Regions from separate parts of the Homo sapiens genome. Here all the other regions are linked to region 3. The links come from fine-mapping of genetic effects on gene expression. A gene starts in region 3. Each other region holds a variant in brackets. All regions are shown on one strand. Distances are between the middles of the regions.

Region 1 (10,780 bases), 45 kb after region 3:
AAAAAAGGAACATTATTACAGAGACTAAACACACTAAAATGATATTACAAATCACTTTATAACATTATATTTGACAATTTAGATGAAATGGACAAATTCCTTGAAAAGCACACATATGAAACTGTCATAAAAAGAATTAGAAAATCTAAATAGTCCAATACCTAGTAAAGAAATTGAATTTCTAATCAATACCCATTAAAAAAAAAAAAAACTTCAGGCTTGCATTGTTTCACCTGTGAATTCTACTGAATATTTAAGAAAGAAGTAACATCAGTCTTACAAGAAACACTTCCAAAAGACAGGGAAAAAAGGAACACTTACTAGTTTACTTTTAAATACATCTGTTCAATACAAAAATTGTGCTTGAAGAATAAAGTGATTTTTATGAACTGAAGTTAAAATTAATATTAATAAATTTTTTATTTTAACCAATATTTCAGAAAAGTTATGTTTTCACTGACATGGCCAGACATAACTGAAATCAGTATCTTTTTTTTTGAGACAGTCTTGCTCTGTTCCCCAGGCTGGAGTGCAATGGCACGATCTCGGCTCACTGCAACCTCCGCCTCCCTGGTTCAAGCAATTCTCCTGTCTCAGCCTCCTGAGTAGCTCGAATCACAGATGCCTGCCACCACGCCCAGCTAATTTTTGTATTTTTAGTAGAGATGGGGTTTCACCATGTTGGTCAGGCTGGTCTTGAACTACTGACCTCAGGTGATCCACCTGCCTTGGCCTCCCAAAGTGCTGGGATTACAGGCGTGAGCCACCGCACCCGACCTTGAAATCAATATCTTAAGTAATGTTTGGATCATGCAATTTTAAAGTGACACATACTTTACACATTAGTGGTTTTAAAAAGTTTTTCTCACATTGATGTCATGGCAATAAATGGAAGAAAAAAATACCTAGTTCTTGAAAACAATAATAAAAACCTTTGTTTCTAATGATTACTCATCATGTGGAAATTTGCAGTGAAACCAAAATGAAGCCAAGTAATTTAATTTCTACTCTTCAAAAATCTCTGTATGTAGTATTTCTGGAGTATCTGACTAGTATAATAAGGTTTTTTTGCCTTTATTGTCAGACACTTCATTAAATCTTAAGGTGGTAAAAACAGTGTGAAATCATCATAAAATCTTACCATTCAAATAAATGTACTTATGTTTTACACTTTTTGAAATAGATATTCTGACGGGGGTAAGATAATATCTCATTGTGGTTTTGATTTGCATTTCTCTGACGATTTGTGATGTTTGGCTTTTTTAATGTACCTGTTGGCCATTTCTATGTCTTCTTCTGAAAAACGTCTATTCATGTCCTTTGCTTACGTTTTAATGGAATTACCAGTTCTGTTGTTGTTTCCACACGAACATTTTCAGATGAACATTCATTGAGATTTTATTCATAAAAGTCAAACCTGGAAGTAACTCAGATGTCTGTCAACTGGTGAGTGGATACACTATAGCATATCTGTATGATGGAATGTTAGAGTTAAAAAGGAATTGCTAATAAATGCAACAACATTGTGAACAAAAGTTCCTGAAAAGGGCTGGGTGCAGTAGCTCACGCCTGTAATACCAGCACTTTGGGAGGCTGCGGCGGGTGGATCACCTGAGGTCAGGAGTTCAAGACCAGCATAGGCAACATGGTGAAATCCAGTCTCTACTAAAAATACAAAAATTATACGGGCATGGTGGCACGCACCTGTAATCCCAGCTACTTGGGAGGCAGAGGCAGGAGAACTGCTTGAACCCAGGAGGCAGAGGTTGCAGTGAGCCCAGAGGGCGCCACTGCACCCCAGCCTGGGTGACAGAGTGAGACTCTGTCTCAAAAAAAAAAAAAAAAGAAAAGAAAAGAAAAAATTATCTGAAAAGGAATGTGAAGGAAACAGACTTTATTCCAGCAAAAGGCTGCAAACTACAGAAACACAATCTTTGTTGTAAAATGAAGGTGTGTTCCAGGGAACAGAGGGAAGGCTCCGGTTTTAAAGCAAAAGTTTCTGCCCAGGTTCCCTATCACCTATGTTGCTATCACCTATGTTGATGCCAAGAAAGAGTGAAACTTACTTAGTTCTTATTGGTTAACACAGCTCAGTCCTGATTGGTTGATACAGCTGAGCGCTGATTGGCCAGGGAAGGTGAACTCTGATTGGTTGCTTCAGGTGAGCTCTGATTGGTTGGTTTCCAAGCCCCAAAATTAAAAGGTGTGAGTTTTGAGGGGACTTAGAGTACCTGTATGACCTCTAGACAGCAAATGGCTGGTAGGTTCTATTTTAAATTTAAGCCCAAGTAACCATACAGGATCCATCCCAAAAGACTGGCTCTTTCAAATTCACATTTGTTCACAACATGAATGCATCTCAAAAGCATTATGCTAAGTGCACAAAGTCAGACACAAAAAACTATCTCTTATATAATTCCATATGTGTGACGTTCTAGATTACAAATAACTATAGTAACAGAAATGAGGTGAGTGGCTGTCAGGGAACAGGAGGTGGGGAAAGGGGATCAATAATTGCAAAGGGGCACAAAAAAACTTTGGAGTCAATATAAATATCTATTTTCAGATGATGGTTACATGATAATATTTATAGTCCATTTTCATTTATAAGTATAGCTACAAAAATCCTAAATAAAATATTAGCAAACCATATCCCAAAATATATAGAAAAATATTGTACTATGACTAAGTTGCATTTATTACAGAAGTGCAAAGGAACTGATTTATGCCAACCACCTGACTGAGCTTGGAGCCAGCTTCTTCCCCCATCTTCAGATAAAAACCCAGCCCAGATGACACCTTGGTTTGATTTTGACCTTGAGATCCTATGCAGAACATTCAGCCAAACGCATTCAGATGCCTGACCTACAGAGCTATGAGCTAAAACATGAGTGTTGTTTCACACTGCTAAATTTGTAGTCATTTCTACATAGCAACAGAGAACAAATACAAATATTATAATACTATTTATAAAACTTAAAAATCTAAATATTGAGTTCTTTAGGTATCCACATATAAGTGCATATTTCTAAAAATCAAGGAAATCACATACACAATTCTAGATGGAAATTTTTAGCGGGGTGGGAGTATTGGAATGATTAGGCAAATACACGATTGATGCAAAGATGGGACAGAAATGAAAGACTGTCATTAGCATATTATCAAACATTACCTTTATTAAGCAAAAAAAGCCAATGGTTAAATATGCATTTAAATGTTTAATTAGAAACTAAATTATTCGTTGTGCACATGTACCCTAGAACTTAAAGTATAATAAAAAATTTTTTTTTAAAATAGCCATTCTCCCTGGTATAAGAGGGTTAAAAAAAGAAACTAAATTTTTATATTTATTATATAATTATATAAATATTTATATATAAGTATAAACATAAATATATATAAATTTATATTAAATTAAATAGAATTTAATTTTAAATTTAATTTAAAAGTTTAAATATGCGTTTAACCTGATCTGCTTTATGTATTTAAGAAAATGAAATATCCATACTATGCAGTTCAATTTAATAACATAGTACAAAAGATAAGTTTGGTATAGATGGTAAATTGTAGATGCTTTTACTATTACTGCCTGGTTTTTTATTTACAAGCATGTAACAATTTTTGTAATAAATAATTGTTGTAAGGAGATCTTTATTTAAAATCCTCAGAAGTTTTCAAATATGTACTCAAAGATAAATTCATATAGGAAAACGAACTATATGAAAGCAGAAAAGGAAAAGTTAATTAGATAATTAAAATTGCCACAGAAAGGTATATATTTGAATAATAATAAAAGAACATTTCTCAATTATCTACTATAAACCAGGCACTTTGCTAGCATTTCAGGCACACCATTCCAATAATCTTCAAAAGAAATTTGCAAAGGAGATACCATCATTTTTTCCTAACAGTAAAACTTACAGCATTTCAATACCTTGCCCAAAGTCATGCAGACAGTAAATAGCAAAATCGGCATAAAGAATCAGGACTAAAATGTTATTTCAAAGGATTCATCAAGAAATAAATTATGTTAGCCAGGCGTGGTTGAGCATGCCTTTAGTCCTAGTTACTCAGCAGGCCGAGACAGGAGGATCACTTGAGCCCAGGAGGTTGAGGCTGCAGTAAGCTATGATCACCCCTCTGCACTCCAGCCTGGGTGACAGAGCAAGACTCTTTCTCTAATGATTAAACATAATAATAATAAGAAGAAATTACACACACATACCCATACACATATACCAAGTATTTATGACACAATTTTAATAATTGCTGAATCTAGGTGATGGGTACACAGGTGACCACCATGTTGCTATTCCTTCAGTGTACTTGAAAGGTTTCAGTATGAAATGTTGGGAAATATGGTTGGGTACTTAGTACAGCACCCAAATCCCTGGCATCTGAAGCAATGAAGTACCTCCTTCCCCAGCCCTTCCCATCACCGATAGCCATAATGGCCCCCAACTCCGCATCGCTTGCTCGCTTTTCCTGGTTCCCCAGACACCGACTTCCACTCGACGCTGAGGATGCTCCAATCCAGACCACAGAAGCCCTCAGTGGCTAACCCCCAGCTTCAGATTCCACTGACCATTCCCTGAAGCCTTCTTACACCGCAAACCTCCACAAGTACCCCATGCTGGTCGCATCCGGTCAAGGACCCCAACAGCGCTGGGAAACTCACCCTACAGCTGGAGTCGCACAAACATTCGCTTGAGGACTAGCAGGTTTCCGTAACCTCTTCACTCACTGCCGTAGTCACGCTCTTGTGCAGACTCAGTAGCACCTTCGCGGAACACAAGATGTCTACAGACTTTGAAACCAGGCGTGCACATGGAAGCAGCAGTCTTGGAAGATGCTTCTTACAGATAGCGAGATGGCCATTTTCTGGCGACTAAATTCCATCGTGCTAGAAAGGAAAGAGGCAATGCAGCTGATCTTCTACTGTCCTTTTCACCACTTCCCCAGCTGCTACCAGCAGCGTTGTGCATTCTCAGGAACAACATTCAGCGTTCTCACCTGTCTACTTCAAATCTAGCAACAGCCCTAAGCCAATCACAGACAAGACCTAAGCAGAAGATGGCTGCACCTATTTAGCCCCATAGGCCCTTAAAGCAGCAGGTAAGGCGCAGCCATATTTGAAAAAGTTTTGGGATCTGTTGATCAAAGACTAGGCAGTGGAGCAAGGAAGTGGGAGCAGGCAGAGGGTGGATTCTGGGAATGTGTTTGTCGAGAGAAGTCTTAGGAAACCAGAATTGGGTCTGGAGGAGCTCAGGTAGTAAGGGGGAAGCCACCTGGGTACATTTGGGTGTGGGATTGTGGAGAGAGACCTTGAGGGGTAAGAACTGGGCCAAACTGGTTGTGGAGCAGACACTGACAACCACAACCCATTCCAAGAGAATATTAGTTGTACTTCAGAAAGATCATGTGTATTCTGAA[C/T]AGTCATGTGAAATAGATGTAAAAGTCATGAAGAAATTATTAGCAATCAAATCTAGCATTATATGAAAAGAATGAACTTCAAGATCAGGTTCCCAGGAATACAAGGATGTTTTATCCCTTAAAAATAAATACATGTAATGTATGGTGCCAGCCATGATTAAGTAAGCCCCCTAGTTTATCACTCCCACTGGTTAGAGTTAAAACTTTTGAAAAAAAACTAATAAAAACTACTTGAGAACTTTTAAAATGAATAATTGCAAAGAGATTGGAGAATAAAGTATAGAGTTGAAAACCAAGCAATGCACAGAGTAAGTTCCCTCATTTTTTTTCTGTCTATATCTCCTGCCTTTGACCTAAGGGTAAGACAAATTAGGAAATTGTTAGTCCAAACTGCACCATTTTGGAAGCCCCCCACCATTTCACAAAACCTGATCAAAGTGAAACATTCCACAGGGGGTTCGGGCTGTGAGAAACATCCTGCCTCTTATCATATTCTGCTGGGAGAAAGTGCAAGGAACACCACTTTCCGCGGGAATCGCCTCATCCTGGGAACATGTCCCCCCAGGCCCCTCTCACCCAGGCCTATAAATTGCCCCAGCCTATAAGCGGTGGGCACTGGCATTAGGCTGTTTCCTCACTTCTGCAGGTCTTATGCTGGACATAAAGCCTGCATTTGCTGTAGAGCCACCACTCCATGTCTTTCTTTAACCCTTGCCTTCCCTTCAAAACCTAACAGAAATTTCGCTGCTGAGGTGAAGAGCAAGGACACTAAGAAAAACCAGCCTTCATGGCCAGAAAACAGAGAAAATGAATCCACATGAGCCAAAAAGTGTGTTGTGGGGATCTCTATTTTATTTTATTTTTTCCGTTTTTCTAGTTTTTCTAGCATGGTCTTGCTAGTTCTACTGTTGAAACTGCACTGCCACAGTACTGGCAGTGACATGGACACCTAAAACTCAAGAAAAAAAATCTATAGATAGAAAATATTAGGCCCGATGCGGTGGCTCATGCCTGTAATCTCAGCACTTTGGGGGGCCAAGGCGGGTGGATCACCTGGGGTCAGGAGTTTGAGGCCAGGCTGGCCAACATGGTGAAACCTCATCTGTACTAAAAATACAAAAATTAGCCAGGCATGGTGGCAGGCACCTGTAATCCCACCTACTTGGGAGGCTGAGGCAGGAGAATCAGTTGAATCTTTCTGATGCCAATCATAAGCTTGCCACATTAGTTCTAGAGAATAACAAACAAAAAACAATGAATTCTACCATTATCATGAAATGGAGAGGGATGGAATCTCAAGTTCATATACAAGAAAAATTCAGAAAGTGATCTGCAGATACACAGTGTAAGTCTGAGACATTCAATAAAAGAAATATATAATAGGCTTGAAGGACACAGGTGTCATCAAACTTGGAAAAGATTCTAGGAATATTTGAAAGCATACTAGAAGAGGTCTATAAATATTGGTAGGAGGTGAAGGGTGGTTGTATCTAATAGGCTGCAAAAGAAAAGTGACTAAGCAAAAAGGCAAGGGCCAAATAGGCAAGAATCTCAACCAGAGGGAGAAAGAGAGGCACATCTCCTATGAGTCATACATAGAAATATAGTGCTATGGTCTGATGTGTCCCCCAAAACTCATCTGCTAGAAAGTTAATCCTCAGTGCAGCAGTGACAGGGAAGTGGGGCCTAATGGGAGGTGTCTAGGTCATGAGGGCTCCACCTCATGAGCAAGTTAATGCCATGATAAAAAGGCCTTGTGGGAGTGGGTTTGCTACTTTTTGCTCTCCTGCCATATGAGAACCCAACATTCATCCTTACTTGCCGTTCTATTATCTGCCATGTGAGGATGCTGCAAAAAGGCCCTCAGCAGATACCAGATACTGGTACCCTGATCTTGGACTTCCCAGCCTGCAGAACTGTGAGAAATAAATTTCAATTATTTATAAATTACCCTGTCTCAAGTATTTTGTTATAGCAGCACAAGTGGACTATGACAGATAGTAAGAGGAGGAGAAATTGTTCATATTGAAGACCTCTTTTCACTTATACTCTAAGTCACCCTTAAAGGTTCACAGACCATGAGAAAATGTATTAAAATAACAAGGGTGCCAACCCATCAATGGCCAACTAGTACTTTGGTTCCACTAACTCCCATCGCATTGGTTTCACTCACCTGGACTGCACCAACTTGGGAATTCTCTCTCTACTATTCCTTGTTCTTCTTTCCCCAACTGGAATATTGCTTCTGGCTTGGTAGCTTGACAACCTGTCAAGAGGTAATCACAGAGAATCTGAGCAGCATTAGAGCTTGTGAGAAAAAGTTCTGTTTCAGGAAATGCACAGTATACATCTCAGCAGAACAGAAACCTTTCATTTGGAAAGTGAAATTACATATGGTCACTGTACGATTATAAAGTAAAAAAAGTTCTAAAAGTCAAAGTCCAAAATCATTGAGGATATCAGAGTACCCACAAATTGTGGCAATAGAAAAAAAGGCAATTAATCGGCTTACAGTGAGATATTTAGGAAAGTTGTCTTTACCCAGTGACACTAGGTTGTTGTAATTTTCCAACATCACATCCTGGTAGAGGTTCTTCTGAACAGGGTCTAATAGATTCCACTCCTCCCAGGTGAAGTCAACAGCCACATCATTGAATGATGATAAACCCTATAATAACATAATCCTTTTAAATTCTGGAGTTAATATAATAAAATTCAGTCTATAAGACTCGTAGGACATTATTCTCTTTATCTTTACCACAAAGATTCACAAACGAAGATTTTCCTGTGCCTAGTTTTGGTTTGCACTTTGTGAGTGGAATACATTAAAAACTATCTTTTCTTTGTGCATTCTTCATTCACTTGTTTACTCTTTCATTCATTTGCCCGATGTAAAGTGTCTTTTAAACCTTTAAACTACCTAAAAACCATCTGTAACCCACCTTAGGAGCATTTAATGTAATTCATTATACATATTACAATAAAAACAATAAAGGTTAGTCCTTCCTTCAAGTGTTTCTGATCTTGCACAGAGTAGCAAATACAGTCCTATGCAGAAAGCCTATGTATTGCATGGTATTATGGATTAGCAAGGACTAAGACAGAAGTATGCTCAAGCTAATATGTGAGCACAATTAGGTAAGGCCATAATTGTTCTGAAGAGGTAGACAAGCTGGTAGCATGATTAGTAGTGCGTTCTAAAGGAAGAAGTGGAAGAAATGGGGGCTTCCTTGGAAGGGGGCAACATATGTATCTGTATTAAATACCATTCTGCGTTCAAAGAAATGCAAATAGTTCATTAAGACAGGAGAAGCTGAAGAGAAGAAATGCCCATTTGAAAAGCAGGAACATGTCTTGGAGCAAAGGGTACACATTTCCTTAAGATACTCGATAGCCACTACACTTTTTTTTTTTTTTTTTTTTTTACATAAGTAAGTTACGGTCAGAATTGCATTTTGGAAATTGTGCTACAAATTAAATGATGATACTCATAAAGAAAAACAGACTTCTTACTATGTGCTATGTATCATTCTACAAATTTTACATATATTAACATAATAATCTGCACAATAACCCTTGTTTAAGCACTATTATGTTCTTTTTATAAAGAAGAGATTTTAAGTTTCCTAGCTGTGCCTTTTATATCTCCCACATTTCCTTAAAGATTACTGTTCACTGGGTCCATATGCTGGCACACAAAAACTGAAGAGGAAGAGGAAGATCCATCAGAGACATTTCTTCACACTGGATGCCCAGGAAATATTTACTGATATCAACGATTTTATGTGCTTTCTCCTTCTGGACAAAGTAAATCTTGTAACTTTTAAAAATTCTCTTGTGATGGTTGTCAGTACTGCCACAAAAATGTTTGCAACTTAATTCTAGATCCTGCTACTTATATGGCAATTGTCTAATTATTAGCACCTTTCAGGACCCTACGACATGGAGATAGATCTCCCTTCCTAACTGGCTACTCTTGATCATTTATTCTGTCTCCTAGTCTAACCACATCCCTGCCAGCCAGAGTGTACTTATATTCATTTTTCTCTTTGATTACATATATGGTTATAAACTTCTAAAAATCTACTGGGAAGTAAATAAACACCTCACTTGGAACTTTGTCATGTTCAAGAGCTTTCAGAAGATGGCCAGTACTTTTAGTATCTGTTTGTCCTGCAATTCTGATAATGTCTCATCAAGGGTATCCTCAACAAAGATGAATTTCTGGACATGAGATATACTTTTTTCCTTTACAGGAGCTGCCTCATTCTAAGAAGTCAGCATCTATGAATTCAAACAAAAATGTGTTTTAAAGTAGAAATAATAAAGAGCAAGTCCGCGTAAATAAAAAGACTTTTCTTTTTAAAATTAATTCATTTCCTATACCTAACAAATAAAATTGTATGTATTTATCAGTACAATACGTTGTTTTGAAATAAGTATATACTGTGGAATGGCTAAATCAAACTAATTAACATATGTATTACTTCACATACTTGCCATATTTTTGTGGTGTGAACACTTGAAATCTATTCTCTTAAGCAATTTTCAAGAGTACAATACTTGGCCGGGCACGGTGGCTCACACCTGTAATCCCAGCACTTTGGGAGGCAGAGGCAGGCGGATCACCTGAGGTCGGAGTTTGAGACCAGCCTGATCAACATGGAGAAACCCGGTCACTACTAAAAATACCAAATTATCCGTGGTGGTGTATGCCTGTAATCCCAGCTACCCGGGAGGCTGAGGCAGGAGAATCGCTTGAACCCGGGAGGTGGAGGTTATGGTCAGCGAAGATTGCACCATTGCACTCCAACCTGGGCAACAAGAGCAAAACTCTGCCTCAAAAAAAAAAAGAAAAGAAATAATACAATACCTTGTTATTTACTACAGTCACCATGTTGTACAATAGATCTCTTAAACATAAAAGTTCATGTCTTATCTAACTGAAATTTTTTATTCTTTCACCAACATTTCCACAACCCTCTCCCTCCCCCAGCCTTGGTAACCACCATTCTACTCTCCATTTCTATGAATTCAATAATTTTAGATTTCACACATAAGTGAGATCATGCAATATTTGTCTTTCTCTGTGAGGCTTATTTCACTTAACATAATGTATTCCAAGTTCATCTATGTTGTCACCAAGTGACAGGATTTCCTTCTTTTTTGTGGCTCAAGAGTATTCCATTGTGTATATATGCCACGTTTTCTTCATTCATTGTTGTTGGACACCTAGGTTGATTACCTCTCTTGGCTATTGTGAATAACACTGCAATGAACATGGGAGTGCAGCTATATCTGCAAAGTGCTGATTTCATTTCCTTTCGATATGTGCCCAGTAGTAGGA
Region 2 (9,376 bases), 38 kb before region 3:
AAGAAATAACCGTTTTTCTGAAATGTTAAGCATCCTTCCAAGGGTATCAGAGTGATATGGAGAAATATGGTAAGACAGTTACAGAATCAGAGATAACGACACTGATTCTAAAAGCATTATTACCAAGGCATTGTTGCATTAAGACTGTTTTTTCTTTTCTTTTAGAGACAGTATCCTGCTACGTTGCCCAGGCATGTCTCAGACCCCTGGGTTTAGTGATCCTCCTGCCTCAGCCTCCCCAAATGCTGGGATTACAGGCATGAGCCGGGCTGTTTTTAATTCTAAGTAATTTATAATTTACAATTACACCTAACAATGGCTTCAACAAGGGGTGTCCAATCTTTTGCCTTCCCTGGGCCACACTGGAAGAAGAAGAATTGTCTTGGGCCACACATAAAATACACTAACACTAACGATACCTGATGAGCTAAAAAAAAAAAAAAAAAAAAAAATCCCCCAAAAATCTGATAATGTTTTAAGAAAGTTTATGAATTTGTGTTGGGCTGCATTCAAAGCCATCTTAGGCCATGGGCTGGACAAGCTTAGCTTAGAACCAAGACGAAATTTATGGTTTACTTTACAAGAATTTTGCAAGAGGGTAATACTAGGTTAGGTTATATCTGGAAAATATCATCAAGAACTACATTCATTTTAATCTTTTCTCTTTTTTATCCCTAATATGGTGACTTTTTTTCCTGGGGATTGCCACTTCATGGCTCCAAGAAAGCTACCACAGCTCCTGACTTCACATTACAGCAGGGGTCCCCAACCTCCAGGCCATAGACCAATACACAGACCGATACCGGTCTGTGGCCTGTTAGGAAGTGGGCTGCACAGCAGGTGACTGGCAGGTGAGCAAGAGAAGCTTCATCTGTATTTATAGCCACTCCCCATTGCTGGCATTACTGCCTGAGCTCTGCCTCCTGTCAGATTAGTGGCGGCATTAGATTCTCATAACAGTGTGAACCCTACTGTGAACTGTGCATGCCAGGGATCTGGGTTGTGTGCTCCTTATGAGAATCTAATGCCTGATGATCTGTCACTGTCTCCCATCACTCCCAGATGGGACTGTCTAGTTGCGGGAAAGCAAGCTCAGGGCTCCCACGGATTCTACATCATTGTGAGTTGTATAATTATTTCATTGTGTATTACAATGTAATAATAATAATAGAAATAAAGTCTACAATAAATGCAATGTGCTTAAATCATCCTGAAACCATCTACCCCGCCACCCCATGGAGAAATTGTTTTTTATGAAACTGGTCCCTGGTGCCAAAAATGTTGGGGACTGCTACACTCCAGCATCCCACACCAGGAGGATGGGGATGAGATGGAGAATCACTGAAGATCTTTAATCAGAAGGGTGATATGTTCATTTGTACTTTATAAACATTTGTGTTTGTATTTTATAAACATTTTCTTGGGATCATAACAACAGATGCATTTTAGAAGATTCCCAAGGTATGAAGGGTAACAAATGAAGACGTGCCTAGGAGTCACATGGAAGCCAACACTTTGTAAGGGGATTAAAATAAAGGGAATGGCAGAGGACATCATTATGCACAGAGGAGAAGGGCCCAAATGTCAAGAGAAAACAAGAGACAAGGGACTCCACAGAGAGTAATTGCCAGAAAAATTTGTAGGTCTTTTGAAGTCTGACTGTTCTTCCTAAAACGGGGGTCCTGGGACACCCCTACCTGTTTCCCATGAGCCCTCTTTTCTAAAACATAAGTAGGTTTTCTTCCTGGCTACCAAATGGCCTGTGATTAGCACACTAGGTTGGGCAAAAATAGAGCCAAGTGTGTGTTCCAAAGTGACTATGGTGAAGAAAAAAGCGAAAGTCTTAAAATGGACTTCCACTTCTGTGTTTGCGTAAGGCTAAAAGGGAAGATGTCTTAGGGTTGACCGGAATGGGAGTATTCCTGCCTATGCTGCAAAAGTCCCTGACTCTTCTGGTAACTGAAACATGAGAAATGGCCTCGGCGAGCAGCACAGCCTCCCAGTAAAGCACTGGACTGAGGTGGTAAAGCCAGATTGCCTGGACTAGAATCCCAGGACTACTGTTCACTAGCTCCGGACAAGCCAGCTAATCCAGGGGTCTCAAACATTTCCCCCAACTTTTTTTTTTTGAGACAGAGTCTCACTGTGTCACCCAGGCTGGAGTACGGTGGTGTGATCTTGGCTCACTGCAGTTTTGCCTCCTAGGTTCAAGTGATTCCCCTGCCTCAGCCTCTCCAGTAGCTGGGATTACAGGTGCCCGCCACCACGCCTGGCTAATTTTTGTATTTTTTAAGTAGAGATATGGTTTTGCCACGTTGACCAGGCTGGTCTTGAACTCCTGACCTCAAACAATCAC[T/C]TGCCTTGGCCTCCCAAAGTGCTGGGATTACAGGACGGAACCACTGCACTGGGCCACAAACATTTCCTATGAAGAGCCAGATGGTCAATATATTTCATTTGGCAGGCCATAGGGTCTCCATCACAACTCCTTGGCTCTGCTGTTGTAGCCTGAAAACAGCCACAAGCAAAGTTGTAAATGAGGAGCATGACTGTATGTCAATAAAACTTTATTTAAAACACGACAATTGGACTTCATATAAGTTTTGCATGGCACAAAATACCCTTCATTTGATTTTCTTTAGCCGGTAAGAAATATTAAAGCCATTCTTGGCTCTCAGGCCATACAAAAACAAGCGGTGGCTAGATTTGACCCCTGATTTAACTGCACTGGGTCCCAGACACTTCACCTGTGAATTGAGAGCAATGATACTTACAGAGGTGTTTTCTGGAGCAGAACAAATAAGATCAGTGATACAAAGCACTTGGCATGAATTCCAGTGCAATAAGTATTATCAATATCTTAGTAATTACATAAACCTCTCTATCTGCTGTTTCACGTTCTCTGCGGTGAACCCATCCATGCTTAAAACTTGAACCACACCTCAGCTAACATTCACCAGACCCCTGTCTCTAGCTCAGACCTGCCCTTGATGTTCAGACACATCATTTTGGGTTCCTGTTTCCTTTCAAACTCATCTGCAGCCTTTGCTCTCCTCACCTTCTCCCACAACTCTGTTAAGGACTAAATTGTGTCACATTCCCCTTCAAATTCTTAGGTTGAAGCCCTCACCCCATGATATGGTTTGGCTGTGTCCCAACCCTGATCTCATCTTGAATTGTAGCTCCCATAATTCCCACGTGTTGTGGGAGGAACCAGGTGGGAGATAGTTGTTTCATGGGGACGATTTCCCCCATAATGTTCTCATGGTAGTGAATATGTCTCACGAGATCTGACGATTTTATGAGGGGTTTCCCCTTTCACTTGGTTCTCATTCTCTTTTGCCTGCTGCCATGTAAGATGTCCCTTTGTTCTTCCTTCGCCTTCCGCAATGATTGCGAGGCCTCCCCAGCCACATGGAACTGTGAGTCCATTAAACCTCTTCCCTTTATAAATTACCCAGTCTTGGGTATGTCATTATTAGCAGCATGAGAATTGACCAATACACCCCAGCATGTCAGAATGTGACTGTATTTGGGGATACAACCTTTAAAGAGGTAATTAGCTGAAACTGAGGTCATTAGGGTGGGCCCCAACTCAATATGACTGATATCCTTATGAAAAGAGGAGATCCAGACACAGACAGGCATAGAGGGAAAACTGTGTGAAAACATGAGGAGGAGGCGGTATCTGCAAGCCAAGGAGAGAGGACTCAGGAGGAATCAACCCTGCTGACACCTTGATCTTAAACTTCCAGCTGATAAAACTGTGAGAAAATATATTTCTATTGTTGTAGCCACCCAGCCAATGGTATTTTGTTATGGCAGCTCTAACAAACTAAACACTCTGCTTCTTTTCATTGACTCTCGTCTCAATGACAGCCCCCAAATCCACGCAGTTACCTTGGTGCAACAGTTCTGAAGAAAATGGCCACAATATTCTTGGACACTCCTTCCACTGACAGGAAGGCAGGCATATTGTATCGCCTCTCCCCTGGAACCTGGGTAGGGTTGGGACTACTTTGACCAAAGAACGTGGTAGAAATGACTTCCACGTAGCTTTCAAGGCTAGGTCAAAAAAGGCTAGGAAGCATCTTCTGGTTCTCCTGGGACACGTGTTCTGGAGGAAGGCAGCCATTGTCCTGGGACTTTGATTCCTCTGAGACCACCATGCTGGAAAGGCTGCCTGTAGGCACTTGGTGCAATACCAGCCTAGTTCAGCATTTGAGTCATTCCAACCCAGGCATCTGACATGTGAATGAAGGAGCTCTAGATGACTCCAATTCACAGTCTTCTAGTCACCCCCCAGACCTTTGAGTTTTGGGTGGCAGAGACAAGCATCTCTGTGCCTTATCCTAATTCCCAACCCACATAATCCATGAACGTAATGAAATGGTTGTTTTACATGCTATGATTTGGGTGGTTATACAGCAATTATGAATTATGAATGTGGGCTTCATAAAGACCCTTCATGCTTCCTCATTCTCCAGAGCCATTTGGTCTCCAAGCTCAGTCTACCAAGCCTGGAAATCTCTCCCTAAACTACACCTCCTCTCTAGCACACTACTCCAGCACAGGCAATTATTCGACAAGTTCACCTTGATCTCTGGCAACTTCTTACCCTTTAAGATCTCTGCCTCCAACTGGGAGCATTCTCAGAGCCATCCCTTTGCAGGGGGACTCTAGAGCAATGTTTTCTGGAAGCACACACCTGACAAGTCACTCTCCTGCTTAAATAGCTTTTAAGCAGAAGAAATTGTAAGAAAGAAATTTTTTTTTAGACCAATATCCTTGATGAACATTGCTGCAAAAATCCTCAATAAAATACTGACAAACCAAATCCAGCAGCACATCAAAAAGCTTATCCACCACGACCAAGTGGGCTTCATCCCTGGGATGCAAGGCTGGTTCAATATACGCAAATCAATAAATGTAATCCAGCATATAAACAGAACCAAAGACAAAAACCACATGATTATCTCAATAGATGCAGAAAAGGCCTTTGACAAAATTCAACAACCCTTCATGCTAAAAACTCTCAATAAATTGGGTATTGATGGGACGTATCTCAAAATAATAAGAGCTATCTATGACAAACCCACAGCCAATATCATACTGAATGGGCAAAAACTAGAAGCATTCCCTTTGAAAACTGGCACAAGACAGGGATGTCCTCTCTCACCACTCCTATTCAACATAGTGTTAGAAGTTCTGGCCAGGGCAATTAGGCAGGAGAAGGAAATAAAGGGTATTCAATTAGGAAAAGAGGAAGTCAAATTGTCCCTGTCTGCAGATGACATGATGGTATATCTAGAAAACCCCATTGTCTCAGCCCAAAATCTCCTTAAGCTGATAAGCAACTTCAGCAAAGTCTCAGGATACAAAATCAATGTACAAAAATCACAAGCATTCTTATACACCAATAACAGACAAACAGAGAGCCAAATCATGAGTGAACTCTCATTCACAATTGCTTCAAAGAGAATAAAATACTTAGGAATCCAACTTACAAGGGACGTGAAGGACCTCTTCAAGGAGAACTACAAACCACTGCTCAATGAAATAAAAGAGGACACAAACAAATGGAAGAACATTCCATGCTCATGGGTAGGAAGAATCAATATCGTGAAAATGGCCATACTGCCCAAGGTAATTTACAGATTCACTGCCATCCCCATCAAGCTACCAATGACTTTCTTCACAGAATTGGAAAAAACTACTTTAAAGTTCATATGGAACCAAAAAAGAGCCCGCATTGCCAAGTCAATCCTAAGCCAAAAGAACAAAGCTGGAGGCATCACGCTACCTGACTTCAAACTATACTACAAGGCTACAGTAACCAAAACAGCATGGTACTGGTACCAAAACAGAGATATAGATCAATGGAACAGAACAGAGCCCTCAGAAATAACGCCGCATATCTACAACTATCTGATCTTTGACAAACCTGAGAAAAACAAGCAATGGGGAAAGGATTCCCTATTTAATAAATGGTGCTGGGAAAACTGGCTAGCCATATGTAGAAAGCTGAAACTGGATCCCTTCCTTACACCTTATACAAAAATTAATTCAAGATGGATTAAAGACTTAAATGTTAGACCTAAAACCATAAAAACCCTAGAAGAAAACCTAGGCATTACCATTCAGGACATAGGCATGGGCAAGGACTTCATGTCTAAAACACCAAAAGCAATGGCAACAAAAGCCAAAATTGACAAATGGGATCTAATTAAACTAAAGAGCTTCTGCACAGCAAAAGAAACTACCATCAGAGTGAACAGGCAACCTACAAAATGGGAAAAAGTTTTCACAACCTACTCATCTGACAAACGGCTAATATCCAGAATCTACAATGAACTCAAACAAATTTACAAGAAAAAAACAAAAAACTCTATCAAAAAGTGGGCAAAGGATATGAACAGACACTTCTCAAAAGAAGACATTTATGCAGCCAAAAGACACATGAAAAAATGCTCATCATCACTGGCCATCAGAGAAATGCAAATCAAAACCACAATGAGATACCATCTCACACCAGTTAGAATGGCAATCATTAAAAAGTCAGGAAAAAACAGGTGCTGGAAAGGGGAGAAATAGGAACACTTTTACACTGTTGGTGGGACTGTAAACTAGTTCAACCATTGTGGAAGTCAGTGTGGTGATTCCTCAGGGATCTAGAACTAGAAATACCATTTGACCCAGCCATCCCATTACTGGGTATATACCCAAAGGACTATAAATCATGCTGCTGTAAAGACACATGCACACGTATGTTTATTGCAGCACTATTCACAATAGCAAAGACTTGGAACCAACCCAAATGTCCAACAATGATAGACTGGATTAAGAAAATGTGGCACATATACACCATGGAATACTATGCAGCCATAAAAAATGATGAGTTCATGTCCTTTGTAGGGACATGGATGAAATTGGAAATCATCATTCTCAGTAAACTATCACAAGGACAAAAAACCAAACACCGCATGTTCTCACTCATAGATGGGAATTGAACAATGAGGAAACATGGACACAGGAAGGGGAACATCACACTCTGGGGACTGTTGTGGGGTGGGGGGAGGGGGGAGGGATAGCATTGGGAGATATACCTAATGCTAAATGACGAGTTAATGGGTGCAGCACACCAGCATGGCACATGTATACATATGTAACTAACCTGCACATTGTGCACATGTACCCTAAAACTTAAAGTATAATAATAAAAATATATATATATATAAGAAAGAAATTTTAAGAAGAAATTCTAAGTTCTTTTTACAGCATTCAAGACCAACCAAGAAATTGCCTCTGCCGCCCTCTACATACTTAATGCTTATTGCTGTCTGCCTTATCATCTATGCTCTGGTAAACAAAAGTAACCTGCTTTTTTGTGACCCCTTTCGTGGGTATTTTTACTCCCCTCTGACAAGAATGCATTATTTTTTCTCCTTTATCTGAGTCTTTAAGACTCAGCCTACATGTTCCCTCCTCCGGATATTGACTCTAGATCCGTGAATCTGAGTTAGTGGTTCCTTTTAGAGGACCTCACAAGGAGCCAGGCATCTGTCTATCACTACGTGCCCCCACCCTATTGTAACTAAGCACTGCATTCTCACCTCTCTATTCAGGTGGTCCGCAGAGCCCATGTCTGATTGATCTCTATGTCTCCAGCAGCCAGCAAGGAAGCACCTCTTTAGAGACCTGCACCTATACAATACCTACCACCTTTTATTTCTCGATATGTGAACTCCATTGAGAACAAACGAGTAAATGTAGGTAATGTGCCTTCTTCTTTTCTTTTCTTTTCTTTTTTTTTTTAGATGGAGTCTCGCTCTGTTGCCCAGGCTGGAGTTTAGTGGCACAATCTCGGCTCACTGTAACCTCCGCCTCCCAGGTTCAAGCGATTCTGCCGCCTCAGCCTACCAAGTAGTTGGGATTACAGGTGCCCACCACCACGCCCAGCTAATTTTTTTTGTATTTTTAGTAGAGGTGGGGTTTCATGATGTTGGCTAGGATGGTTTTCAACTCCTGACCTCAAGTGATCCACCCACCTCGGCCTCCCAAAGTGCTAGGATTACAGGTGTGAGCCACAGCGCCCAGCCAGTAATGTGCCTTCTTAAGTTCTGTGAGCCATTCTAACAAATTATCAGAACAGAGGAAGGGGTTATAAACATCCCCCCACCCCCGATTTATAGCCAGTCAGTCAGAAGTACAGGTGGCCACCTGGGACTTGGATTGGTGTCTGAAGTGAGGACAGTTTTGGGAGAGTGAGCCCTTTAACTTGTGGGATCTGACACTAACTCCAGGTAGACAGCGTCGGAGCTGAATTGAATTGTGAGATACCCAGTGGTGTCCCCAGAGAACTGGAGAATTGCTTGATATGGAAAAGACCCACACATTTGATGCCAGAAGTACTGCATAAGTCGAGAATTGAGTTTGACTTAATCATCATATTTGGGCTTGATTGCGTGGCTGAAACTCTTCCCACTTCAGTAATTGTTTCTTTCATTTTCATGAAACTCTGAAGAAGGAAGGGCTGGACATTCAGATTCCTTGACCCTTGACATTTGGAAGCATGAACTCCAGTCTCTCACAGAAGGCTAGAGGTGAAGGAACATTCAGACACATTGGTTTCTAAGAAGAGTCCGCTGACAACATACCCAAGGTGTCTTCTGAAAATTATAAGAAATCCTGAGTTTCTGTTAGGGGATTGGCTCCAGCTCCATTGTCCCTCCCCCATCATTCAGTAGTCTCCGCGAAAGCCCTTAGAGCCGGTGTTGCTCCACAGGAAGCCAAGAAGCACACAGGAAAAGGAGCTTAGCTGCTGGTAAGTTGGGGACTGACAATTTAAAATTTATCAATGGAACTCCTGCTCTCTGACAAACACCTCCTAAATTCTAGAGCAGTGCTGTAATGGAGCATCCACTTGCCACAGGTGGCTTTTGAGTGCCTATGTTTCTATCTTGATCTGAAATGTGCTTAAGTGTAAAATATACTTAGTGTAGTTTAATCATTAGTATGATCAAAATAATACAATTTATCTCGTTAATAACTTTCATTTTGGTAACGTGTTCCAATGATTTTTTTTATTTGCGGGGTTAAATGAAACATATTATTATAATTAATTTCTCCCAATGATTTTACTTTTTTAACATGGCTACTAGAAAGTTGTAAGTCACGTGTGTGGCTGGCATTTAGGGCTTGCATTACCCTGTCTCTACTAAAAATGCAAACAACAAACTAGCCAGGCGTAGTGGTGGGAGCCTGTAATCCCAGCTACTCAGGAGGCTGAGGCAGGAGAATCGCTTGAACCTAGGAGGCCGAGGTTGCAGTGAGCCGATATCGTGCCATTGCACTCCAGCCTGGGCAAGAAGAGTGAAAC
Region 3 (10,780 bases):
CTTGATGAATACTATCTGGCTTCTATCCATGCTAATCTCCGTATCAAATGTTCACTTACCCACACCATTGGTGTTCTCCCCTGAACATACTTTTGCACTTTTTACAGGCTGAGAATTTTCCAAATCTTTAGGTTCTACTTCCTTTTTGATTATAATTGCCTTTTTTTTTTTTTTTTTTTTGAGATGGAGTCTTACTCTATCACCCAGGCTGGGGTGCGCAGTGGCGCGATCTCGGCCCACTGCAAACTCTACCTCCCAGGTTCAAGCAATTCTCTTGCCTCAGCCTCTGAGTAGCTGGGATTACAGGTGTTCACCACCACACCCGGCTCATTTTTGTATTTTTAGTAGAGACAGAGTTTCACTATGTTGGCCAGGCTGGTCTCGATCTCCTGACCTCATGATCCACCTGCCTCGGTCTCCCAAAGTGCTGGGATTACAGGAGTGAGCCACCGTGCCTGGCCTATAATTGCCATTTTTTATGTAACTCTTTTCCTGCATTTTACTATAAGCAATCAAGAGAAGCCATGCCACACCCTCAATGCTTTGCTTAGATGTAACTTCCACCAAACATCTTATTCCATCACTCAGAAGTTCTACCTTCCACAAAGCACAAGGACACAGACACAATTCAGCCAAGTTCTTTGCCACTTTATAATGAGGCTGTCCTTTCCTACAGTTTCCAATAATATTTCTCATTTTCATCTGAGATCTCATCAGAATGACCTACTTCTACATTTCTACCAATACTCTGATCATTATTGCAATCTTCTTCTGAGCCTGTAGCAGAATCACCCTCAACGTTACATTCATGGAAATGTAGAGTTTTTTCTAGCACTCACAAACTCTTCCAGCCTCTCACATTACCCAGTTCCAAAGCCATTTCCACATTTTTAGGTATTTCTAATTATAATACCTCTACTTCTTGGTACAAATTAGTCTTTTAGCCCATTTGACCTGCTATAACAAAATCTATTAGAGTAAGTTATGATCCACATAAATTTATTACTCACAGTACTGGAGGATAGAAAAACCAACATTAAGGCTGGGCACAGTGGCTCATGCCACCATAATCTCAGCAGTTTGGGATCGCTTGAGGCCAGGAGTTTGAGAACAGCCTGGGCAACATGGCAAAATCCCATCTTTAACAGAAAAAAAAAAAAAAATTAGCCAGGCATGGTGGCACATTCCTGTAATCCCAGCTGCTTGAGAGGCTGAGGCACGAGAATCCCTTGAACTCAGGAGGTGGAGGTTGCAGTGAGACGAGATTGCACTGCTGCACTCCAGCCTGGGTGACAAAGCAAGACTTTCTCTCAAAAAAAAAAAGGAAAGAATAAAAAAAGAAAAACCAAGGTTAGGATGCCAACAGATTCCATGTCTGATGAGGGCCCATTACTCATAGACAGCGCCTTCCATATGTCCTCACATGGTGGAAGACAGACAAGCTCCCTCAAGGCTTTCTTACAAAGGCACTAATCCTATTTATGAGGGTGCAACCATCACGCTCTAATCTCCTCCCTATGGTCCCGCCTTTTAATACCATAACCTAGGGGGTTAGGATTTCCCATACAAATCTGGGGAGGGGAGAAACAAACATTCAGACTGTAGCAGATGCAGCAATAGTAACTTTAGGAATGTGGAATTTATAAAGAGCACTCATTCTTCCCCATTCCCCACAGCCATCCAGTCTCCAAGGCTGGTCTACTCAGCCTGGACAATCTGTCTCTAAGCTACGCCTCTTCTTGATCACACTATTCCTGCCCTGGGTAGCTCTTCAAGAACCTTACCTTGATTTCTGGCAACATTCTCCATTCTAATATCTCTGTCTCCAATTAGAAACATTCTCAAAGGCATCCCTTTGCAGGACTACAGAACAATATTTTTCAGAAGCACACACCTGACAAGTCACTGTCCTGCTTAAATGGTTATTCATGTTATTATGAAGAAATTCCAAGTCCTTCTTGTAGCATTCAGGACCCTCCAACAGATGGCTTCTGCCACTTGCTACACACTCAGTGTTTATTGCTGTCTGCCTCACCATCTATGCTCCAATAACCGCAGGTAACCTGCTATTTTTTGACCCTTTCCTGCGTGCTTTCACTCTCCTCTGCCTGGAATGTATTTTTTTTTGCTTCTTTATCTGAGTCTTTAAGATTCATCCCGGATGTTATCTGCATTGCACTTGGAAGTGACCCTGGACCCTGTCAGTCTCAGTTAGTTGTTCCTTTTGGGAAATCTCATAATGAACCAGGCATCTGTCTATCACTATATACCCCCACTCTACTGTGACTGCTTAGGGAAATGGCAGAGGACACCATTGTGCACAAAGGGTGCATAAGACTATGCTTAGTCACAGTAGAGTGACGCTGTCACCTCTTTACCTGGGTAGTCGGCATCTCCAGGGTAAGGCACATGTCTGTTTAAGCTCTATGTCTGCAGGAGCCAGCAAGGGAGCACCTCTTCAGAGGCCTCATGCAATACCCACCACCCTTTATTATACTGATAAGTAAATTCCATTTTAATCAGGTGGCAGGTAGCAATGTGCCACTGTCCTAGGAAAGCAATCATGATTGGCCTAAGCCAATATGAGCAACTTGTCTTTTTTTTTTTTTTTTTTTTTTTTGAGGTAAGGTATTGCTCATTGCCCAGGCTCGAGGGCAGTGGCATCATCATGGCTCACTGCAGCCTCAACTTCCCTGACAAAGCAGTCCTCCCACTTCACCTCCTGAGTAGCTGGAACTACAGGTCCACACCACCACACCCAGCTAATATTTTTTTGGTTTTAGAGATGGGGTCTCACTATGTTGCCCAGGCTGGTCTTGAACTCCTGAGCTCAAGCAATCTTCCTGTCTTGGCCTCCCCAAATTCTGGCATTACAGGCGTGAGCCACTGTCCCTGACCTTTATTTTTATGTATCGGTATTTTTGTTATTTCTTGGCCATTGATTGGTCTAGAGATGGCATGCTCTGGCAATGAAAGACAAGGAGAGGTCCTGAAGAGACTCTGGACAAGGTTTCCCTCTGTAATAAAATGGAAGAGGCATGTGAATGAGTCACATTTTCTGCCTGTCTCATGATTCTGGCTCGGGAGGGCCTGTTGATGCAATGTCCAGAACAGTGGCAGCCATTCTGTGGTCACTTTCAAGAAAGCCCTAGAAGAAAACCAATATGATGATGGAGTGGAAGGGTGACATTAAACTCAATTTTTGTTCAAACTCCAGATCTATCCCCTTCCAAAACTTTTTTTAATAATAAATTTCTCCATGGCTTATGTGCTTCATTGGTTTACTCTACCTTATCACTGAAAACATCCAGTGAATCAGAGAGAAAATAGAAAATAGTTGACTCTTGTTTTGTGGCTCTCCACTGTTTTTCATGGTTCTATTCCTTGGGCTTGAGAACAACATTCTGATGGTGTTTAAAAACTCAGAAAGAGCCCATCTCCTTAGATCAGTAGTCCATAGAGCATCTCCCTAGGGGCAGAAGGTTAGGGGGTTAATCTCGGCAATGGTGTGGAGTGTACAGTGTCTCTCATTTACCTTCCTTACCTCTCTACATGCTCCTAGTTACTGCTTCTCTTTGTAACTCTGAGGTATGAAATACCTCAAAGCATATTTGATTTTGTCACAGATTTCTGGCACAGGGCTCTTAAAACCCTTGGAATTCCCTGAGTGATAGGAGTATTATTTGTTATTCATAAACAGCCCCTTTTGATCATAGCTGAGTTTATGCTAAGGAGATCATGGCCTTAGGATGGGACTGGTCACCAGAAAGACCAAGGGATTAGAGGGTTGGAGCTGTCAGCCCCACCTACTGATCTCCAGGAAGGGGAGGCAGGGACTGGAGATTGAGTTCCATAAAAACTCTTGAACAATGAGATTTGATGAGCTTCCACATTGGTGAACACTCAGGAGTGCTGGGAGAGTGGCTGCCTGAAGAGAGCATGGAAGCTCCATGCACCACCCAACCCCTTCCCTGCCATATACCTGCCATATGCCTCTTTCCAATGGACTATTCCTGAGGTATATTCCTTATATAAAGCAACAGATGCAAACAAAGTGCTTTCCTGAGTTCTGTGTGCCATTCTAGCAATTTATTGGTGTCATTGGAACACCCAATTTATAGCCTGTCAGTCAGAAGTACAAGTAGCCACCTGGGACTTGCAACAGATGTCTGATCTGATCTGAGAACAGTTTGTGGGAGTGAGCCCTTTAGCTTTTCGGATCTGAGCTGAATCCAGGTAGACAGCATCATAACCGAATTTTTAATTGCAGGTGGCCCAGGTGGTGTCCCCAGAGAATTGGAGAATTTCTTGGTGTAGAGAAAAAGTATATTTGGTCAGAAGGATTGTGAAAGTAGAGAATCGAGTTTTTGTTTCACCGTGCATCTTTGTTTTTTTATTGTTTTTCCTCTCATTCTTCTCACCTTGGTAATTGTTTCTTTCATTTTCCTGAATCTCTGAAAAGAAAGGGCCTGGACTCTCAGATTTCTTGGCCTTTGATATTTGGAAGGATGAACTCCAGTCTCCCACAGAAGGCTAGAGGTGAAGGAACATTCAGACACATAAGTTTCCAAGATAAATCGTCTGAGAACATCTCCAAGGTGTCTTCTGGGAATGGTAAGAAACCCTGAGTTTGTGTCACTGGATTGATTCCAGCTCCATTGTCCCCGTGTCCTTCAACTAAGTCTCTGCTGAAGCCTGTTCTATAAAAACAGCAAGTAAGTGGTTTGGACTGACCTATTGTACTAGGTTCGACAAAGCAAACCAAATGGAGTCAGTCATACTAAAACTCCACATCACCAAACCAAAACTAATGTATCTGAACTTTTGAGAAATCAGGAGAGAGAGAAAATGGACAAATTCCTAAAACAGGCCAGTTTCAGTGGGCATGAACATGAAGTTCTGTCTGCTTTCATCTTTACAAAAAAAAAAAAAAAGCAATCTGTGGTAACTTGACTTCAATCAATCAGTTGTTCCTTATTGCTGTCTCTCTATTCCTGCTGCACAAAAAAAATGCAACATCCAGATGACCAATCAGGTTTTTGTTCTCTGTTTCTGCTTTCTTTAGCCCTCCTATCCCTGTAAAACCAACTTCCTTGGCTCTAACTATCAAAACACTCATTTTGTTTTATAGCATGACAGGCTGTCTGATTCCATCTTTATAACCAAAGCCAATTAAGATCTTAAAACCAAACATATAACTTCATCTTTTTACAAGTACTTAGAGCCTGAGTTGCTCCACAGGAATCCAGGAACTGGGCACAGGAAAAGGATCTAAGCTGGTGGTAAGTTGGGGTCTGAAAATTTTAAAGTTATTGTTGAAATGCCTGCTATATGACAGAGCCCTTCTAACTCTGGAGTAGCGTAGTCCAGTGAAGAATCCACTTCGTTAGTATGAAAACAATGTTAACTATTTCATTAACAGTGTTTAATTTGGTTACATGTTCCAGTAACATTCTTTTTTTTTTTTTTTTTTTTTTTTTTTTTGATGGAGTCTTGCGCTGTCACCCAGGCTGGAGTGCAGTGGCACAATCTCAGCCCACTGCAACCTCTGCCTCCCAGGTTCAAGCGATTCTCCTGCCTCAGCCTCCTGAGTAGCTGGGATTACAGGCACCTGCCACCACGCCTGGCTAATTTTTTGTATTTTTAGTAGAGACGGGGTTTCAATATGTTGGCCAGGCTGGTCTTCAACTCCTGACCTCGTGATCTGCCCACCTCGGCCTCCCAAAGTGCTGGGATTACAGGCGTGAGCCAATGTGACTGGCCAATTCTTTATCATATATGTAATTAAATAAAATTTATTACTAAAATAATTTCCCCAAAGGTGTTTTACTTTTTTAAAAACAGTGGCTACAAAAAAATTTTGAGTCCCATATGTAGCTAAAGTTAACACATTATATTTCTACTGGACATGTAGCATTGTAGAGATGTAGCATTGAAGGATCTTGATAGTCCTGTGGAGCTTACGTACTAGTGTGGAGGGTATTTAAGAGAGAAGATAAATGAACAAACAAATAAAGGAGAAAAGTATCTGGTGAGATAGGCTGTACCTGAGCATTCTGCTTTGCAGAGTGGGTGAGGTGGGATCTCTCTGAAATAATATTTGACCTGAAATATGAATATTCAGGATGAGCCAGGTGCAGGAAGCTCAAGACGAAGAGCACGGTAGGCAGAAGGAATAGAGAAAGCAGAAGCCCTGAGATGACAAAGAGCTGCAAGTTCAAGGAATTAGAGCCCAGTGGGTGGAGCCCAGTGTGTCTGATGAGAGTGCAGAGATGAGGTCTGAGGGATGCACAGGGCACATGTGGCAGTGGATAAGGGAACCTAGGATAAGGGAACCTAAGATAAGGGTAACTTAGAAGTCTGGAAGCCATCGGAAGGTATTGCGAATAACATCACCATCTTATTGGACCTTTTTAAAGCTCATTTGGTTTCTGTCTGGAGAATGGATCTTAGGGGAGGGGGCAGCAGGACCAGGAAAAAGCTATTTGCAAGGCTTGTGCAAATATCCAAGCCTGACAGGGCCATGGACACCGGTCGTGGAGATGGCAATGGCTCTGGCTGTGCATTCAGCATGTTCTGTAGATAGAATGAGTAAGACGTGGATGGCGTTGGGTGGTGAGGAAAAGAGAAATGAAAGGTGAGTTCTAGATCTGGAGCTTTAACAACTGAATATTTAATCTCCAAATAGATACAGAATATTGGAAGAGTGGCAGGTCTGGGAGGCAGAGAACATCAACAGTTTGGTAAAACCATGTGAGGTTTGGAGTCTATGGGACTCCCACGGGGAGAGGTTTTATCAGACTTGAGTGCCAGGGAGAGGCCACGGCTGATAATTTAGATGAAAAGACAGCATAATGGTTTAATCCCAGAGACTGGATGATATCATTTATAGAATGTGAGATACCCCAACATTTAGAGTCAAATTTAGAATAGAAAACACCGTAAATTGGACTAAAAAGAGGAAGAGAATCGAGCTGTAGAGACGACCAAGAGTGTATTGTGTGCACATATCTCTTGGATATATCTCATGGCATAGGAAAAATGTGTTTGAAAAGGGAGAAAGTGATCCAATGGGTCCTGTGTCATTGGGATATCAGGTCTTAAAAACTGAGAAGGACTCACTGGATTTGGCAGCCTGGGGGTCATAAGCATCCTTGGGAAAATGCATTAGGTGGAGTGCTAAGGACAGAAGTCAATGTGGAGTGGATTAAGGAGAACAGCTGAGGCGAAGAAGGAAAAGGAAGAATTAGAGACATTCTCTTTGGATGTTTGGCTGGAAATTCTGTCTTACAGACAGACCTTACAGAGAGGTCATTTGGCTAGATAGGGTTGAAGCTGGAAAGAAATATGCTTCAAAGGAGGTTTCTCTTGAAAGAGAGGGGGCGTGATTATGTGATAGAATGATCTAGTAGAAATACAATTTTCAATTTTTTTGGTATAAAAAATGATCTTTTATCCCTCACCACATCCCACCTCAATCTAAGTCTTAACTTTCTCGTCTGTACAATGGTTATACAAATTAAAACTAACATTAATCAATATTCACCGTGTCTCAGGGTGTGTTGAGTGCTTACACATATTAACACATCCCATCCACAGAGCCTATGAGAGGAGTTGTGAGGGTTAAGGGAGAAGCTCTTGGTGTGTGGATAATGTTCATAAGTAGAAGCTACTATTGCTATAAGCATCGTTCTTGTCCTGACCCTGAGCTTCATAGTGCAGGGTTCGGGATTGTACCCCACAACACAACACACAGCCTGGTGAGGGCTAAGAGTTCTAATTTGTTACAGATTTACCGACCTATCCTAGATGATTTCCATGTCTATTCTTTTTTTTTTTTTTTTTTTTTTTGAGACGGAGTCTCGCTCTGTTGCCAAGCTGGAGTGTAGTGGTGCAATCTCAGCTCACTGCAACCTCTGCCTCCTGGGTTCAAGCGATTCCCCCACCTCAGCCTCCAGTCCATGTCTATTCTATTTAATCCTCCCCTGAAAATCAGTCTTTATCAAAAAACCATTTCAGTTCTGCAGAGGGGAAAATGGGGGCTCAAAGAGATGTCACTGATCAAGAATTTACACCATCGAGGTGTCAGAGATAAGATCAGAGTAGAGATCTAACTGACTCCAAAGCCTGGTACTCTTTACACTGTTACAGTGACACCCAACTGGCAGGGGGAGGGGGTGGGAGGTATTTTGCCTCCCAGGGGATCTTTGACAATGTCTTTTGGTTGTCACTCCTGAATGGGGAGTTGCTACTGGCATCTCTGGATAGCGGCCAGGGGTGCCGCTAAACATCCTACTGTGTACAGAACAGTCCACCACAACAAAGAATTAACCAGCCCAAAATGCCATTGGTGTCAAAGCTGAGAAACCCTGAGCTACACTAAACAATGTCCCTGGGAAGACCTCAGTGAAAGTGACTGATAATGATAGGAAAAAAGAAGGAAATGAGTAAAAGAAATAGGAGAAAAAATTTATTATACGAGGGCAGGACCCTATCCTGGTAATTTTGGAAGAACGCCTTTCAATGGCAGCACTTGAGCGTGCAAAGGTAGTGGCTCTGTTCGGTCTGGTTTACAAATCTTCCTGTCTCCACTGACTGGCTAGGTATGATGCTGAAAAAACTACAGGAGTCCCTGGGCCATGGATTCTCCCTAGTAAAAAAGGGATGATGATGGCTGCCTCACAGTGTTATTATGAGTATTAGATGTAAACAAGTGCTACATAATTGCTATCATTCTTAAAGAGGCTAAATAGCCCAGGGTGGGAAGATTCTCAGATTTTCATGATCATAGAAAATTGCTGTAGCTTGGCTGGGCGTGGTGGCTCACACCTGTAATCCCAGCACTTTGGGAGGCCGAGGAGTTCGAGACAGCCTGGCCAACATGGTGAAACCCCATCTCTACTAAAAATACAAAAAATTAGCCGGGCGTGGTGGTGGTGCCCAGCTACTGGGGAGGCTGAGGCAGAAGAATTACTTGAACCCAGGAGGCGAAGGTTGCAGTGAGCCGAGATCACACCGCTGCAGTCCAGCTGGGTGACAGAGGAAAAAAGGGAACCATTCGGACATTTGCCCCTGAACTTGAAGTGCGCCACACCCCACTCCCACTGCCAGTTGCCACCCCCGTCAGCTCTCTTTCTGCCTGTCCTCTTGCTCCTCTGAGTGTGGCCTCCAGATGTCTCATGTACCTCCCGGGGTCTGTGAATACTAAAACCTCTCGAACTTTAACACTGTCGTCGCCTCATTGAAGCCGCACCCACAATCCAACCCACGATGTGAGGCTGCCCGAAAGCGACCTGGGCAGTTGGATCCCCTCTTGATGTTCTTTTGTCCTGACCTCTGGTGGCTGCTGAGGATGGTCACTAGCAGCTGAGTTGATAGAGAAACTTGAAGAGCTTCATTTAATACTACTGGCATAGCAGGCAGGCTTTTGGCTGTGTCTTGGACACAATCCCAATGTCTGTGTGTGTGGATGACTCACGCACTTCCTGCATCAGACAGCCCAGTCGGTCTGGCCCAGACGGCACTACTGCTTGCTGGTGCTCCATTTTGCTGCTTCGTGCAGCTTAGTACTGCTGTCCTCAGCAGTTAACTTGGAGATTCTCCAGAAATTCCAGTGACCGTGGACGGCTCTTTGAGGCTCCAGGCTCCCCAGCAGCTGCAGGAGGGCAGATCCTATTGTAATGAGGGTGTTTCCCTGTGGGACATCAGAAACCCTTTCTGGGATCAGGCCCCTGACAGGGGGCCACTACTGGAGGGCATGTTGCCCCTTGAGCCATACATGCTTCTCTGGTGACCTAGGGCCTCGGTAGTGGTCCGGCCTGTATTGGCTCTAAGTAGCAAAGTACTGGCCTCCAGCCAGAGAGAGCTGGCCAGGATGCTGAGCTGGCCACCCGGTAGCCCATGGCTCGATCCTCAGCTCTACCTCCATCTTGCTGATGATAGGGCCATGGGCCACCAGGCTCCTGGGGAGCAGCGATTCCACCATAGTGAAGTTGAAGAGGATGACAGAATGCTGGCTTCAGTGTGTCAGTGAAGGGGAGCTGGGTGAAAGGGTCCAGTCGCCTAACTCTAACCTGTGACACGGCAACTGCACCTGAGTCCCCAGGGCACCTTGCAAGAGCCGGTGCTGCTGAGGCCAGTGCCTCCTTGGTTGCTGCATTCCTTGGTGCTATCACTTCTCGTTCTCCCAGCCCCTCAGAGGTCGATCGGGTCACCCTGGAAAGAAAAGCGGCTGCCTACAAGGCCAGTGCAAGTGGAGCTCATTGTTCGGTTTTGAAGAGAAAGTGAGATTAAAGAAAGACACACAAAGACAGAGTGTCTCAACAGCAAATGCAGGCATTTATGTCCAGTATAAACCTGCAGAGGTGCCAGTGCCCACCACTGCTTACAGGCTGGGGCAATTACAGGCCTGGGTGGGAGAGGTCTGGAAGTGGAGCATGGCCCGTTGCCTGGGAAAATGTTGATAACATGTTCCCATGATGAGGCGGTTTGGCACTTGTTCCTGCAGAATGTGATAGTGATGTTCCTTGGGCCTTTGCCCGGCAGAGTGTGATAAGGATGTTCGTGTGCCTTGTGGTCAGGTGGTTGGGCAGGATGTTTCTCATGGCCCGAAACCCCATGGAATGTTTCACTTTGACCAAAGTCTGCAAAATGGTGGGGGGCTTACAAAGTGGTGCAGTTTGGACTAACTCTCAATACCATTTTTTTTTCTTTTTTGGTAACAATGTGTAAAGTGAAAACAGCAGAGTGCTACTCCATACCACTGGGATCTTGTCCAGTA

The links. PIP is the estimated chance that this variant, and not a neighbour inherited with it, causes the effect. A credible set is the group of variants that fine-mapping cannot tell apart.
Region 1: its variant is the best candidate, but not a certain one, in a credible set for the expression of FPR3 in whole blood (TOPMed, PIP 0.58).
Region 2: its variant is the best candidate, but not a certain one, in a credible set for the expression of FPR3 in whole blood (INTERVAL, PIP 0.67).

Annotation. Positions count from the first base shown.
Region 1 is chr19:51,835,215-51,845,994 of GRCh38, forward strand. It overlaps a transcript of ZNF577 not described here. Among named protein-coding and RNA genes, the nearest start is that of FPR3, 45 kb to the left of the region's middle. The variant C/T (reference allele first, on the strand shown) is at 5,434.
Region 2 is chr19:51,752,410-51,761,785 of GRCh38, forward strand. FPR2 (formyl peptide receptor 2) reads left to right here and starts at 8,771. Exons shown (of 2, transcript NM_001005738.2): 1 at 8,771-8,821. The variant T/C (reference allele first, on the strand shown) is at 2,357.
Region 3 is chr19:51,790,050-51,800,829 of GRCh38, forward strand. It overlaps FPR3 (formyl peptide receptor 3), which reads left to right and starts at 5,108. Exons shown (of 2, transcript NM_002030.5): 1 at 5,108-5,282.